2 separate regions of the Homo sapiens genome follow, and region 2 is linked to region 1. Evidence: fine-mapped expression QTL. Tissue or cell type: whole blood. Region 1 holds a variant in brackets; the other region holds the start of a gene. All regions are shown on one strand. Distances are between the middles of the regions.

Region 1 (8,101 bases):
GTTTAAGCGATTCTCCTGTCTCAGCCTCCCAAGTAGCTGGGATTACAGGTGCGCACCATCATGCCTGGCTAATTTTTGTATTTTTAGTAGAGACGGGGTTTCGCCATGTTGGCCAGGCTGGTCTCGAACTCCTGACCTCAGGTGATCCACCCGCCTCGGCCTCCCAAAGTGCTAGGATTACAGGTGTGAGCCATCGCACCCAGCCTGAATTGTATACCTTTTTTGTTTGAGGCAGAGTCTTACTCTGTTGAGAAGGCTGGAATGCAGTGGCACAATCATAACTCACTGCAGTCTTGAGCTCCTGAGCTCAAGCAATCCTCCTGCCTCAGCCTCCTGAGAAGCTGGGACTACAGGCTTGTGTGCCACCATCCCCAGCTAGTTGCTTTTTTTTTTTTTTTTAAAGAGATCAGGTCTTGCTATGTTGCCCAGGCTAGTCCTGAACTCCTGGCCTCAAGTCATCTTCCTGCCTCAGCCTCTCAAAGCATTGGGATTATAGGCAAGAGCGGCTCTGCCCAGCTGAACTGTATACTTTAAATGGGTGAAGTGTAACTTTAAATGGCTGAAGTATATCTCCATAAAGCTGTTACAAAAAATTAATTGTGGTGCTAGATACTATGGAAAGTATCCAAAAGATGCTTCCTCACATCTTGGCAATTACGAGTCAAATGGGTGATAGAAGCATAAGCTGAATGTCATTCCAGGCGGCAAATTCATTTAAATCAGCTGTGAAAATGATTACCCCCTTTGCAGCTCAGTCATGGACACTGACTGGCCCATGCACATTTGAGACAGGAAGCTGGGTTCAGGTTTTCTAAGGGTGTCAGGCATGCCTAACATTCCCCTGTGGCAAGTGGCAATCTTCCTTTGCATATCTGCGAAAGTCTAACACAGGGTTTGGGAGTGAAACAAACAGGTGGTTTGATTCAACAAAAGCACTAAAGAAACACTCAGAAAAGGTCTTGCAACTGCAATTTTATTTTCTTTTGTGAAAATAAACAACTGGGAGTTTAAATTGCTCCAAAAACCATAAAAACAAAAAGAAATACACACAGAAGAAGCATGTGAGGTGATGGGGAAGGGAACAGGGTCTCTAGAACTTTGGCAGATTGTGCTGGCACGGACCCAGGTGACAGGAGCCAGACCATGGGGCCGGTCCCGCCTGCCACTCTGGGATTGTGAAGGGATGATCGCCACTGGCAAGGACGGGGAGGAACACAGACTTCTTCGCTGAGGAAGTGGCAGGCACCTTGAGTCCCTTTAAATGCGGGGGTTGGGAGGAAACCATTTCAGAGGACCGCTTTCTCCACTGAAAGCTGGGGCTGGCGAGTTCGGGCCCACTGAGGGAGGGGACGCTGGTGGCAGCAAATCAGGCCAAGATGTCTTCTCACATGGTGATGGCCTCACACTGGGCAGAGGACAGAGGACGAAGAAGAACCCACGGTATTGAGCAGACGATGAAAACTTGGGCTGGGTAACAGGAAATGTCACAATGGCAGAGCTGCAGATGGAGTCGGGGAAGCTGGGGCAGGCGGCAGGGGCGAGAAGAGACAGGAGACAGAAAGTGCAAGAGAGGTAAGAGAGAGAAGTGCCCTCTGCCCAGGTCCATCCACCACAGCACCTACAGGACGAATAGCACGCTACTTTTCAGTTCTCTTTCTTATAAAGATTTTTTTTTGTTGTTTTGTTTTGTTTTTTAAAAAAGCCTTAAGATCAGCTACTGGTTACATCTACAAACTGTAAAGTGCTGTTGTTACCAGCCACTTTACAGAACAGTCCAGAGTGGTCAAATATTGACCAATAAAGTCTCCTTTTTCTTTTTCTTCTGAATCATTACTACTCAATGAGTCATGTGACAGCCTGCAGGGGTCGGGGGGAGCTTAGTGGGCAGACTTGGTGACCAGGGAAAGAGGCTGGGCCTGTAGCACCGGGAGGGCCTGGTGGGCATGGAGCGTGGCGGGGAAGGACGGGGGAGAGGCCAGCAGAGCTGTGGGCATGGACCCAAGGGGGAGGGGCCGGGACAGGAGGGGAGGCTGGCTGCCCATCTGCCCAGAGGAGGAGGCTGCAGCCTTAGCCGACAGGAAGGCGGCAGAGTGGAGAGCCAGCTGGGCCCGGGTTTCTGGTTTGGTGGTGAGGGAGAGGGGCTGGGCTTGCTCCGAATGGGTGGCAGCAGGGGCAGCTGGTGAGGCCAAAGCTGCAGAGGGAGTGGCCGGGGAGTCCAGCATGCTCCCGTGGGAGGAGGCAGGGCTGTCACAGGGCTTCTCGGGGGGCAGGTACTGAACACATGGCTTCTTGCTCTTGGAGGCCAGGGCACCTAGGGGGAAAATACAAGAAAGAGTGAGCAGCTATAGCTCTGTGAGAGGAGGAGGCTGAGGAACAGCCCTGGCGATACATGTGCTTTGGAGACACAGGGATGATTTTGGCGAGGACCTGACATTACTTCCAAGGCTTTCAAGACTAGGAAACTGCATTCACAAATACCCAGAGCACAGAGAAGAGGCAACGCCCAAACTGATGAAGATCCACCCAGCATCAGATCGGAGAGAAGACGGCTCAGTGTCTCACAGGACCACCCTCCTTTCCTAAAGCTGGTAACTTTTGGGATGAATCTCCAGTTTGCTTTGAAATCTTTGGTTTATGGTATTAATACAGTCAGAGAGAGTGCATGCCTGCTGAACAGCGTGCCAGACAGCGGGTTCTGTAGCAGGTACGGGTTCCACTCATGTGCGCTCCTATGTATAATGGAAGGAAGGAAGGAAGGGAGGAGGGGAGGCAAGGAAATAGGGAGGGAGGGAAGGAGAAAGGGAGGGCGGAAGGAGAAAGCGAGGGAAGAAGAAAGGGAGGGGGGGAAGGGAGGGAAGGAGGGGGAGAGGGAGGGAAAGAGAGGGAGGGAAAGAGAAAGGGAGGGAGAAAAGGAGGGAGGGAAGGGGAAAGGGAGGGAAGGAGAATGGGAGGGAAGGTGAAAGGGAGGGAGGAAGAAAGGGAGGGAGGGAGGAATGAAGAAGAGAGATTGAAAGCACTTTACATCGTGCAAGCAGCGATACACTTGTCCTGGAGTGAGCATGAGATGGGGGGCGTGACCTAAATATTAATAATAATCGTCACAGTGTGAGCATCTTTCTGTGCTAGGCATGATTCTGGTAATATAGAGATTTTATACATGGTTTTGACACAAAGTGCCTCCTAAACCCAAGCAAACTAATTTTTTCTGGTGTTCAACCAAAGAAACATCCAAGGAAACCCGGGCTCCCCTGGATCCACTGACAGGTGGGATGTCAGGGGCTCATGTGCTGCCTTCCTAAGGGTATTTCAAAGACAATTTCAACCTCATTCCATTAACCCTCAGGTAGGATGATTCACTTTTCAATGGAATTAGATTGTCTAGGCTTTGAAGTGACAAAGTCCTGGGATCAAATCCTACCACCACCACTGAAGCAGAGTGCCTGGGAAAATGCCTTCACATCTCAGAGCCTCTTAAGTGGCCACCTCGAGAAAGGGGTAATAATACCCGCCCGCGAATACCGAGGCAGAAGCCCTGACCCATCAGGGAGCTAGAGACAGCATGGGCAGGTGTGGCTGTGACAAAAGGAAAAGCAGGAGAAGAGGCCAGTGCCCCGAGACGCACCCTCTGCCTCCTGGACTTGCTGCTGTGACTGTGTCTGGGACAGCTGCTTTTCTCTCTTCCTCTTCTTTTTCTTACCCTGGAAAATACAGCCAAAGGAAGAGGTAAGCTGGGAGAGAAGAATGCTGGCTTCTCAGGGGCTCCCAGATCAGAGAGAAGACAGGACGTTGCCCTTTACTGCTCTCGATCCCTCAGGGAGAGTGTGGAGAGATAATTCAGATCACAGCCGTGGGAGCCCGTGAGGAGGCAGAGGGAGCCCTTCCTCCCCTACAAACGCGTTTCCCCTCCAGGTCGGGTGTCCAGGCCTTCTTGGAAGGCCTCCTCCCTCCACTGCCCTTCAGACTCTGTTTTTCTGTTTCTCTCCCTAGAACAGTGCTTCTAGATCTTTTCTGAGGGGTCCCAGGTCCCTTTGAAAGTTTGATGCAACTGTGGGTCCTCTTACCAGAAAAAAAGCAAAGAAGAACACGCATGCGAAAATTGGCTTGGTTTCCGGGAGCTTAGAGACA[C/T]GCCCCCTGAGGCTCACACACTGGTCTTTGAGCCCTGGGTTAGGAGTGGCTGGAGACAACTCTTCCTACCACAGCTAACCCCGTGCCCTGTGTTATGAAATCGAGGGCAGAGTCCAGTTCAAAGGGAAATGCATCAACTGAAGTCCGTCCTCAGGACTTGTTGACCTCCTGAGAATTAAAACACCTTCCTTATTTCTAGAGAAGTATGGGCTTCTCCCTGATCTTAAGAGTCCTCTATAAATGCAGTCGCTGGCCGGGCGCGGTGGCTCACGCCTGTAATCCCAGCGCTTTGGGAGGCCGAGGTGGGCGGATCACGAGGTCAGGAGCTCGAGACCATCCTGGTTAACACAGTGAAACCCCGTCTCTACTAAAAATACAAAAAATTAGCCGGGTGTGGTGGCAGGTGCCTGTAGTCCCAGCTACTCGGGAGGCTGAGACAGGAGAATGGTGTGAACCGGGGAGGCGGAGCTTGCAGTGAGCCGAGATCGCGCCACTGCATGCACTCCAGCCTGGGTGACAGGGTGAGCCTCTGTCTCAAAAAATAAAAGAAAATAAAATAAATAAAAATAAATGCAGTTGCTTTCCTTCACCCTTCCTCCTCTTGCAGAGGCTGTTCCTGGGGTCTGAGCGTCCTCTGCCCAGAGTGTGCACTTACATAGTTGTCCCGGGCTGACCAGGTTGGGTAGAGCTGCGAGTGAAGCTGCCGCTCCTTCCGGGCCAGCTCGTAGTACTTGGCCTGTTCTTCTCGAGACAGGTTGTGCCACTGGGGGAGAGAGGGTCAGAGACCACACGGAGCCATCAATGCAGGGACGCTGCCTCCCTGGCCTGGAGGGAGAGGGCAGGTCTTACCTTTCTTCCAAGGATCTGGTTAATGGCTGCACTTTCCTTCAGGGTGCACTCAGCCACCACCTTGGCCCTCATCTCCTTCATATACAACATGAAGGCATTCAGAGGCTTCTTCACGTGGGGCTTCTTTTCCTCCTCCTTTTTCACGGTGACTGGTGATTTCCTGGGAAGGCACGTGGTTGTAGGTTAGCATGTCAGGTGTCACACAACTCATCAATCCCCACCTGTCACTGAAACACCGCTGATTGTCTCTGGGGAGGGGCGCGGGCTGCCTGGATGCTAATTCAAGTGGCCCCATGGCTGCACTCAACACCTGAGTACCTTCCTCCCGTAGTTTCCCACCTTTGAACGATCTCCACGCCAGATTCTTTGAAAATCTACTCTCCAATTTCCTGACAGAGGAACAGAGCATGGTGGGGTTGCTGAGATGAGCTCTCACTGGAGCTGGCAGGTGCTGGCGGCGGTGACAGGACACAGTGTGGGGCACTCTGGGCAGAACCAAGTTGGGAGGGGGTTCTCTTGGGATCTCCAGGGAGCACTGACTTTGGCTTCCTGCCATCTTTATGGTACACGGGCAAGGTAAGGACCCTGGTGCTCATCTCAGCTCGGCCACCAGCCCACCACAAGTCCTTAAGAAAACACTGTCTCCTTTCTGGGCCTCACCTTTTCATATATCTTACGGTGGGGTGTTAAAAGCTTTCTCAGGTTCTCTTTCAGCCTCTGAGACCTGACAGTAAAACTTTCCTTAATAAGAGAGAAGATGCACCATGTCCCTGAAAGGACAGGGACCCAGAAGGTCAGAGGGAGTAAGTCCCGAGGAAGAGGGAGGGCCTGGCTGGGGAGGCTGTGATGCCTGCTGAGTGACACCAAGAGAGAAGAGTACATGACATTTGCTGCTCAGAGTGTGGCCACCCCTCCCCACAGCCTGCACCCTCCCACCTGAATCCAGGCTGCCGCTTACTTACACGCTCACTGCAGGGCTCAGGCTGGGGGGTGCCGGTTCCTGCTTGACGATGGGGGAGACGATGGCAGGGTGGGGGATCCCTGAGGTGGGCAGGCCAGGGTGGGCAGGAGCCACCATGTGAGGAGAGAACCGACTGGAGACCAGGCTGTGCACCGGATAGAAACAAATGGCAACAGAGGGGTTCAGGCTGGATACCTGCCACCCAGCAGAGGACACGGTGGCTCTCTGCCTTAAGGGCACAGGCATGTCCGTGGGGCAGAGTCTCAGGACTAGAAGGCTATTTGTCGTCTTCTAGAAAACCAGGTTTGGGAGATGCTTAATGGCTCTTCCTTCTCCCCACCAACACCCAGGCTGCCCATCTGGTGCTGGAAGCAGGTGGGATGAAACACACAAAAGGGGAGGAGGGTCAGAGGCCCGGGCATACTGGGGAAAAGAAGGGCTTAGGCTGTGGGCAGCTTTCCTCTGTCCTCAGAGGTTCCACTGTCAGGTAGAGCTGGTCCCTGAGACAGAAATCCCCTTTCACCGTCTCCTCTCCTGACATCATTTCAGGAAAAATTCATCTTCTCCCAGTCCCTAGCTTCAGTGTGATATACAGACAGTCCGTGACTTAGGATATTTTGACTTTACGATGGTGCAAAAACGATATTAATTCAGTACTCTCCTTGACCTAGATGGGGTTATGTCTGGATAAAACCATCATATGTTGCAAATATTCTAAGGGGAAAGTTGTGTTTTCAATGTACGACGGGTTTATCAGGACGCGGCTCCATCCTAAGTCGGGGAGCATCTGTCCTCAAAATGCTTCAGTGCCAGAGCCCATGGCAGGAGGCAGAGTGCTAGGGCTTTGCAATCCTTCTGTTGGAGAGATGGGGACAGTGATCCTGTGGTCTCCATTCTGACCTGGGGGTGGGGAGCGCGGGACGTGAGAAGATGCTTGATCAAAGAGAGGTGGGGGGAGGGTGAGCCCTGTGCCTGCTCATTAACTGGCAAGAAAAAGCTGTTTCGTGGTCAGAAATGGCGTGGTTGCTAAGACAAACATGCGGACAGCCCCAGCCCCGGGACTCACCTGGACATCGAGGCGTTCATGGCGAGGGCGGGGTAAGGGTGCCGGAAGCCACCGGGAGGAAGGGAGTACATGGGCTGGCCTTGCCTGTGAGGGGGAGGAAATCTGGTCAGCATATTGGGAAAGCTCAGGGCAGAGGAAGAGAGGCACTTGGGAAGAAGGGATGAGAAATATGGGAAGGAAGCGGGAAGGTAATGCTGGGAGCACGCTGCCTGGGCGGGGGCAGGGAGGCCTAGTCCTGGGCTTGCCTCTGAGGGGGCTCCACTGTGCAGGGCGCGCAGGGCACAGAGGCAGAGCTCAGCGCAAGGAGGGAGCAGGGGGAAGAGAGGCTGTGGGTTCCTTACTGTGGGACGAGCCAGCCGAGGGGGTGGGGGATTTGTCCGACAGCTCCGGGAGAGAGTGGGTAATACGGTGACAGCTCGGATGGGTGAGGGGGCCGGGGGATTCCTGCTTCCAAAGAGAGATATGTCAGACTGTTCCCTCGCCCTGCCAGAGCACCTTAACGAACATCAAATGGGAGCATCCTGCCCTATGTCCCTGGTGCTCTGGAGCCTAGCAGGTGCTTGTGTCATTGTCCTTGCCCTCTGTCAACTCCCTAGCAGCTCTCACCAGTCAGTCAAGGACATATTCAGGGGAGGCAGGACTAATGCACCCCCTCTCTAGCTGCACGGATTCTATCTCTGTGAAGAGTATCTTCCAGCTGGCTGTGATACAGAAGCCAGCGTCCTGGAAGAGAGGGACAGGACCCACAAGACCAATGACAAGAGTCACTGGTGAACCAAGTCTCTAGAAAGCCCGCCTCATTCATGGAGAAATAAACTTTGGATTCCTCCTCCACATGTGTCTTCCTCATTATCTGTAACTTGTAGTGACTGTTATTTCTCCAAAGAGGGGCTCCAAAAATGCTTTGCCTTCCCCTGGCAACTCTGTGTGAATGCTATAAAGACAGTGGCTCCCTGGAATGGACAGGTCTGGTGGGCAAGTTAAAAAAAAAAAAAAGAAAAAAAAGCCAGTTCAGGTTGGGCATGGTGGCACACCGGTAATCCCGGCACTTAGGTGAGTTGACTGCTTGAGTCCAGGAGTTTGAGACCAGCCTGGGCAAC
Region 2 (8,101 bases), 170 kb after region 1:
AAAGTAGTTTAGTAAACCGTGAAGCCTTTTCAGAAATGAATGTATAATTTTGAGGTGATTATTTGAAAAATGGTTTGTGGCAGTTATTCCTCTCTTCACAGGGTCCCAGGGCCTCCAGACAAGAAGCAATTGCAGCTCACAGAGACTTGGCCCACATCCCATGCTGAGGGGACCTCTTCTCTAAAGAGCCTCAGGAAAAAGCCACTTCCCAGCATCCCAGCCAAACCAGAGTGGAGGGCAAGGGTGATGGCTCATGGGGAGAGATGGCCAGACTGTAGGATGGGCCAGCCCCCAGTGGTCTCAGCAGGAATTATGCCAGTGGGTGAGGCTGCTGAAGCCTCCTGCCTGCTATTCCTAGGGTTCATTAACACCCTGAAAACAATCCAGACAATTCCCACTTCTGCATCTGGCTTGGTATTTCCAGAGGAAGTGTTAGAGCAGCAGATAACTGGGGTCACCTAATTTTATACTACCTCTAGGCCTTAGAGCAGCAAAGCCTAAAGTGGTGCAGTTTAGAGGCCAAACAATAAAAAAGACCTAAGATGTCAGAGAGATCGGATCATATATCCCAGGCACTTTCCTCCCTCCTCCCTCCCCACTCGTATCTATCCACATTCATTTTACCAGGCTGGGAAACCAACAGAGGGCCACTTTGTCTGTACCTACCATTTGCCTACAGTGACAATTATCTTAATTATATTAATAGAATCGTTCAGCAGAAAACCATCATCTCCACCCTATAGTCCAGACAACCAAGTGCTTAAGTGTTTCCTCACTTGCTTTACTTACTGGCAGCAAACGAACAGGGTCAAATTAGGTTTAACTGTGCTGACCTAAGGGCAGGACACTTCCCCAGTATATCCGTGAACTAACACAGCGAAAGGCACACAGAGACACAGAAACACTGGGAACTGAACTAACTTCTGTAAGGGCAAGTCACCAGGGAGACAAGATGTAGGTATGGGGGTGGGATGGGACATACTAAGTCCCCAAGAAAGTACATGTCCTAGGAGGCTTGAAAGGAGGCTGGTGCCTGGGCCAGGGCAGGGAACAACTGCAGAGATGAACAAGGACAGTCAGAGAGGCATGCAGAGACGAAAGGTTGGCTGCCTCAAGGAGGGGCTCCAAAATCCCACACGGGCCTGGATTTAGTAATCAGGAATCTCCAGGATCAGCAAGAATCAGCCTTTGGAAGTTCTTAGGCGAAAGAACACATAATGTGATAGAAGGAAGGAAGGAGGGGACACTAACAAAAATCTGTCTCACTTGGACTGTCAGAGAGAGCAGACAGCAGAGCCTGGATGAATCAAAATGCCCTAAAGAGAAATGGGTGCATGGAGAAATAGCCTTGAGGGAGCCATAGTCATATTTGATGGTGAAATAGTCATTTCTGGTGACTTTAACTGCATCAGGACTTGGCTGAGGGCTGATGCACAGATGCTAGTGCCTCCCAGACCCCTCTCTCTAGATATCCTAATAGTAAATGGAAACCTGAGACTTTAGCGGCATTAACTCTCCCCCATACGCAAAGTTACACGAATCCCAACAAAACTTGCAGAACTAAGCTACATGTGTGGGCACTGGTGGGAATCACTGAAAACCTAAATAAGACCGCAGCAGCTCGTTGATCCCCCCCCCCCTTTGATTGGCACGCACCTCTTTTCTTTTAATGAGAAAAAGCAACAGCCATAGACCCACATCCAGTTTTCACTGCAAAACTGACACTTACATTCAGGACTTCCTGGGGTGCTCCAGGCCAGCAGGGCCAAAGCTGCAAGACCTCCCTCCCTCTCGGGGCAAAACTGTGAGGTCTGTGTAGTCCCACTCCCCATTCCCCTCTCTCTCAGTCAGAGTCTCTTCCACCGCCCCCCGTCAATCCCCCTCCAACCCATCTGGTGATGGTAGCGCCCCCGCTGAACCAAATGTGGAGGACTTGGCTCTCCACCGACCGCTGTACAATGACAGCAGGAATGGCCATTCAGCACCTAGCCTTTCTCTAGCACCCTTTAATTATCGTCGTTATTTTAGGGCAGTCTTAGCATAAAGTGTGTTGCTGGGACCCTGCTCCTAAGAGGCTAACACTCCCTGCCCCCTTACCCACCGTCGACAGCGAAGTGGCAGGCAATGGGAATCTGGGCGGGAAGCAAAGAACTACTACGATTCACATCGCGCCCAAGCAGCAGCACGCGGGAACCTGGCACACAGTAGGTAGGCGTTCACCCAACATCTGTCATCGGACCCAGCACCTGGGCAGGGAGCCTAGGGGTGGAGTGGCGGCTTGGGGGACACAAAGGCCTCGCCAGCCCCCAGCTGCGCCCCTCGCAACGCGGGGGGCGGGAGTTTAGAGCCAGAGAGAGGGGGCGAAGGAATCCGCCCTCATTTGCACGTCGTCTGGGGCCCGGTCAATTTGCTTAATCACCGCTCTAAATGCCAGCGGGCAGCACACAATACGCGCCCATTAACAGGTTTAAAGTGTCGCAGCGCTCGCTTTAAATGAGAAAAGCAGGCGACAAAAGGGGGAAAAAGCCAAGTTCCTCAACTTGAAGAATGCCTTGGGTCGCCTCGAAATCATCTACGCGAGTTTAAAATTCGGAGCTAGCTCCGCAGAAAAGCTGAGGCCCCGGTGCGAGGGCTGGGGGTGGGAACGGGGGCTGTGAATAACCCGCCACGAAAACTGGGTTTCTTAGGAACCAGCCTGCAGCCGCCCAGTGAACCCGGAGTCGGAGGACAACGTCGCCAACCCAGCTCCCTAGGCCCCTTGCCCCACTGCCAGAGAAAGCTGACCGATTTCCAAGAAGGAAAGCGAGACCCCCCCAAAGCGGGCACAAATCCAAGTTTCCTTCGGTGCAGGCGAAGAATTCTGGAGGCCAAGGAAGATCCCAGAGGTGGACTCCAAAACCTCAACCCGCAAGAGGGGAAAAGTTAAAGTAACTTTACTTTCATCCAGGCACTGGCCAGCGCAGCCTCGCGCTCGGCCGCCAGAGAGTAGTTCAACTCCGCAAACAAGTTCTGCTTGGGATCGGCGCAGAAGGCCCCATCCCCCACTCCATGGCCAAGCCCGGGGGCGCATCCTGCGGGCCGCGGCCTCCCACCCTCCCCGGCGCGCCCGACGGGCACTCACGGTGCGCGCTCCTCCGGGAGACAGGGGTCCGTTGGAGAGGTACGGGCTGCTCAGGTCCGGGATCATCAGGAAGGGGTACCCAGGGTACGGGGGTCCTTTAAAGAACGCGCTGTCCTGAGGCCTTCTCACTGCGAACAAGACCAAGGCGAGGTGAGGCCCAGGCCCCCGGGACTGACAGCGCCGCGGCAGGGGGCTCGAGGCGGGAGCTGGGGACCCCAGCGCCCCCCACGCGCGCCCCACGGGGGCTGCCGCCAATAAAGGCGGAGGGCAAGGGTGCGTCCACCCAAGCAAGGGGGACGGTGGGCCGCCCGGGCTGAGCAGCGGAGCGCAGCGGGAATCGAGAGTGGGGGGCTGTCCCAGCGGGCACATACCTTCGGCGAAATAGTCCCGCGGCTTCTGGAAAGTGTCCCGGACGGGCTGCGGGCGCCTCTCCGCCTGCGGAGGAGACACAAAGGCAAGAGCGGGTGAGCGGACGCAGGGCCGGGATCCCCCGGGGGTGGCCGCGGTGCTTCCTTACCTCCGAGTCCGAGCTGCTGCTCTGGTTCTCCGACTCGTTGACCAGGGACGACTTGACCTCGTCTAGGTCCCGCTGCGCCGAGGCGCTATCGCTGCTCGGCTCCTGCTCCTCGCCCCCCTCGTCCTGGAAGGGGATCAGCTCGTCGTTCGCCCCGAGGTCGTCCCCTCCGCCGGCCGCCCCGGCGCTGGAGCCGCCGCCTCCCCCGCTGCCGCCGCCGCCGCCGCCGCCCCCGCCGCCGAGCTGGGGCATGGTGGGGCCGCGGGCCGGGGCCGCCGCTCTCGGAGCCCCTAGCCGCCCGCGCCCTGCCCGGCCCGGCCCGGCGCCCCTCCCGCCCGCTTGCGGGCCCGCTGCGCTAGCCGCCGCAACAAAGTTTGACAGGGCGTGGCCCCGCGGGAAGCGGGCCCGGCGCTGCCCGGCCGGGGCGCAGGCGGCTCGGCTCGGGCCCCTCCGGCAGCGCCGAGCCTAGGGCTCCCCAACTCGCCACCGCCGCCGCCTGCTCCGCCGGGGCGTCCCAGCCCCTGGCCCGCCGGGGAGGGGCGAGCGGGGAGGGAGGGAGGAGGGACCGCCGGGCTGGGCAGGGGGGCCGGAGGGAGGAGCCCCGGCTGCAAGCTGACACCCGCGCGCCTCGCGGAACCCGGAGAGCTGCGGTGCGCGCGCACACACACACATACACACGCACTCACACTCACACGTTCACACTCGCATCTTCCAGGGGCTGCGTCTCCCTGCAACGTGCACCGCCCCCAACCCCCTCCTGCGCCTCACACTGCACCCTCGGCGGCCCTCCCCACGGCCTCCCTGGAGTCCTGGAAGTCTTGCGCCCACCCCTCCGCATCCCCTAACTTTCTCCCAAAGAACCTCCAGAACTCCGCGCAGGTTCCCACCCCCTCCCACCGTATCGGCGCGCGGGCGGGCGGCACTGCCCCCTGCGGGAAAGCCTCGGACGCACATACTGGCCGCGGGGCCCTCCCCCTGCCTAGAGTCCCTCCGAGTGCGCGAGCTGATGCACGGACTAGGACACTGGGGACATCTATGGAACCCCGGAAAATGCCCGGCGGCTTTCCGCGCCTTTTTCCTGTGGGGTTCCAACGCGACCCCCGGCCCAGGTTTTCAACCTTGTACAGATATACAGATTTCCCTGCTGAAATCTTGAAGATCACCTTTTCTTCATTGTTTGGGACTAGGTCCTAAATCGAAAAATCGCGGTCTTGGGTTCCAAAAGAATTTGGATTTGGTTCATTGAGAGGGAAAATTGCCTGTCCAGTGATCTCCGAAGCCATTCACAAAGCTGCGTGAGTAGCCAGTGAACACGAGAAAAATGCTCAACCAGCCTCATACCTAAGTAATGCCTGTGGTGCGAGCGCCACGGCCCGCGCCTGGAGTTCCATCTACTCCCGAGGCCTAGGCAGGAGGATCGCTGGAGCCCAGGAGTTTGAGACCAGCCTGGGCAACATAGCAAGACCTTGTCTCCAAAAAAAAAATTTTTTTAATAAAGAAATGCCTGTTACAATGACATTAAGATGTCGTTTCTCTCCAACCTGTGCGGGAAAGTTTGAGGAAAATGAATATCTTGTGTTATCCTCCGTGGGGAACTATTAGAGCATAAACTTTGAAAACAGCTTGGAAGGCAGTATGGAACTATGTAAAACTATTTTCAGCCCAACTGGCAGAAGAGTTTCTACAGAGGTGCCCGCACATATGGGCAAAGCCACATATGCTAGGTTCAAAGCATCAGAGAGCTTGGTGACATGCATTCTTCATCTTTCTTTACAGTGACAGTCCATGCAGCTGGCCAGTTCTATGCAGTGTCCCCGCCCCTCCCCCCACCCATACACACACACACACACACACACACACACACACACACACACACACACACAGGCACATGGACCAAGATTGATTTTGGAGGAACATCTTTAAATGAAACACTATATATGACACTCACTATTTTATTTTTGTTTTTAAAAAAATTATACACATTTATTTCTGCGTAGAAAAAAATCTGAGAAGATGCAAATTATTATCAATGACTATTTCTGGGAAAGGATAAGTGAAAGGAGATAGTTTTCTGGTTTCTATGAACTTTATAACAAGCAGATATGCCTTTTCTAATTTTTTACACAATACATGAGTACAGTCTCATAAAGCGTTTTCAAATAACAGATGTATCTTGAGCAGTATCGAGTAACAAGTAAAAGTTCCTCTTTCCCCCTCAGGACACAGGACCCTTCTAATTAACCACTTTCAGTTAACTGCCTCTGGTTAACCACTGTCACTAGTTTGGTATATATCCTTCCAGACACTTTCCTAGGCAGTTATGAACATATGTAAACGTATTTACAGATATTCTGATGTACATACATAGAATCATACTCTTTGTATTATTGTGTGTTATTTTATTTTTATAAGATTTAAAAGTCAGACGATTTTTCATGTTTATGGTCCATAAATATATGAAAAACCTATTGTACTAGTTTTCTGCTGCTACTGTCACAAATCACGAAAACTTGGTGGCTTAAAACAACAGAAGTTTATCCTCTCATAGTTGTGGAAGACAGAAGTCCACTGTCAGTTTCACTGAGTAGAAATGGAGGTGTTGACGGGGCCATGCTCCCTCTGGAGGCTCCGAAAAGAATCTACCCTTGTCTCTTGCAGCTTCTGGGGGCTTGTGACCACATCACTCCCACCCTTGCGTCTGTAATCACATTGCCTTCTCCTTTTTTTGTCTGTGACAAATTTTCCTCTGCCCCCTTCTTGTAAGAAACCATACTTGTGGCCGGGCACAGTGGCTCACGCCTGTAATCCCAGCTCTTTGGGAAACCAAGGCAGGTGGATCACGAGGTCAGGAGTTCCAGACCAGCCTGGCCAACATGGTGAAACCCTGTCTCTACCAAAAATACAAAAAATTGGCCAGGTGTGGTGGCAGGCGCCTGTAATCCCCGCTACTTGGGAGGCTGAGGCAGGAGAATCGCTTGAATTTGGAGGGAGGAGGTTGCAGTGAGCTGAGATGGCACCACTGCACTCCGGCCTTGGCGACAGAGTGAGACTCTGTCTCAAAAAAAAAAAAAAAAAAAAAAAAGTGATACTTGTGATAGCATTTAAGGACCACCTGGATAACCTGTCCATGTCAAAATCCTTAACTTCATATCTGCAAAGACCTCTTTTCCTTAAACATTCACAGTTTCCAGGGATTAGGTCATAGATGCAGCTTTGGGAGTAAGCCATTATCAGCCTGCCACACCTATAAACCAGAAATGCAAACGGAAACAGCATTGAGATAACCAGTTTTCATCTGTCAGATTGGCAAAGGAAGAAAAGAATGGTAACACCCAGCATTGGCCCCTATACTAAGAAGCACATAGATGCTGGGCCATTGTGTAACAGTTCTAAAGAGAAGTTTGGTAATACCTGTGAAATACCTTTAAAAGTGTGAACCCTTTGACTTATCCACGTACTTCTAGGATTTTATCTGAAGGAAACAACTAGGTACAAAAATAAACCTGTAGAAGTGTGTTCATCACAGTGAAAAAATCTAGAAACAATTTCAATGTCCCCTATAGGGAATTATTAAGTTAAATCATGGTGCATTCATCTAATGGAATGTTATGACATTGTGGAGATATATTTGTCAATATAGAAGGAGGCTCATAATGGTAAGCAAAAGTAGCAAATTAAAATTAACATGTAGACTTCCACTTCCCATTCTAATGGGGTATTGATGTCAGATTGACTCCTTCATCAAGAACAACTAACTATAAACTGGATAAAATACCAAAATAAAACAACAAAACCCAGCTGAGTTGAAGGCATCACTGTCAACCAAGTCAGCCAGGACGTGAGGAGTCAAAATACCAGAAGGGAAATTCATTCAAGCGAGTTTGTATTCACTGCTGTTTCATCCCCTCAGAGAATTTGGTGATTTGTAGCACCAGGCATAGAGGCCAAACCAAAAACAACCATCTAGAGCAGCATACTACAGCTTGCTGCCTGTTTTTGAATGGTCTCAGCTAAGACTTTTTTTTTTTACTTTTTTTTTTTTTTTTTTGAGACGGAGTTTCACTCTTGTTGCCCAGACTGGAGTGCAATGGTGCCATCTCGGCTCACTGCAACCTCCACCTCCCGAGTTCAAGCAATTTTCCTGCTTCAGCCTCCTGAGTAGCTGGGAATGTAGGCATGCACCACCACGCCCGGCTAATTTTGTATTTTTAGTAGAGACGGGGTTTCTCCATGTTGACCAGGCTGGTCTCGAATTCCTGACCTCAGGTGATCCGCCCAAGTGCTGGTTTTACAGGTGTGAGCCACGTCGCCCGGCCGCTTTTTTTACATTTTTAAGTGGTTGAAAAAGATCATAAGGGCCAGGCGCAGTGGCTCACGGCTGTAATCCCAGCACTTTGGGAGGCCGAGGCGGGTGGATCACCTGAGGTCAGAAATTCAAGACCATCCTGGTCAACACGGTGAAACCC

Evidence for each region. PIP is the estimated chance that this variant, and not a neighbour inherited with it, causes the effect.
Region 2: TCF7L1 starts here. The variant in region 1 is fine-mapped to the expression of TCF7L1 in whole blood (TOPMed, PIP above 0.99).

What each region holds. Positions count from the first base shown.
Region 1 is chr2:85,303,239-85,311,339 of GRCh38, reverse strand. It overlaps TCF7L1 (transcription factor 7 like 1), which reads right to left. Exons shown (of 12, transcript NM_031283.3): 6 at 7,343-7,445; 7 at 7,002-7,085; 8 at 5,937-6,080; 9 at 4,975-5,134; 10 at 4,781-4,888; 11 at 3,623-3,698; 12 at 953-2,311. The coding sequence ends at 1,878. Among named protein-coding and RNA genes, the nearest start is that of TGOLN2, 21 kb to the left of the region's middle. RefSeq lists enhancers at 821-1,704, 4,627-5,127. The variant C/T (reference allele first, on the strand shown) is at 4,126.
Region 2 is chr2:85,129,471-85,137,571 of GRCh38, reverse strand. TCF7L1 (transcription factor 7 like 1) reads right to left here and starts at 4,180. Exons shown (of 12, transcript NM_031283.3): 1 at 3,639-4,180; 2 at 3,493-3,556; 3 at 3,122-3,249. The coding sequence starts at 3,887. RefSeq lists enhancers at 1,847-2,420, 2,421-2,995, 3,571-4,145 and a silencer at 4,511-4,580.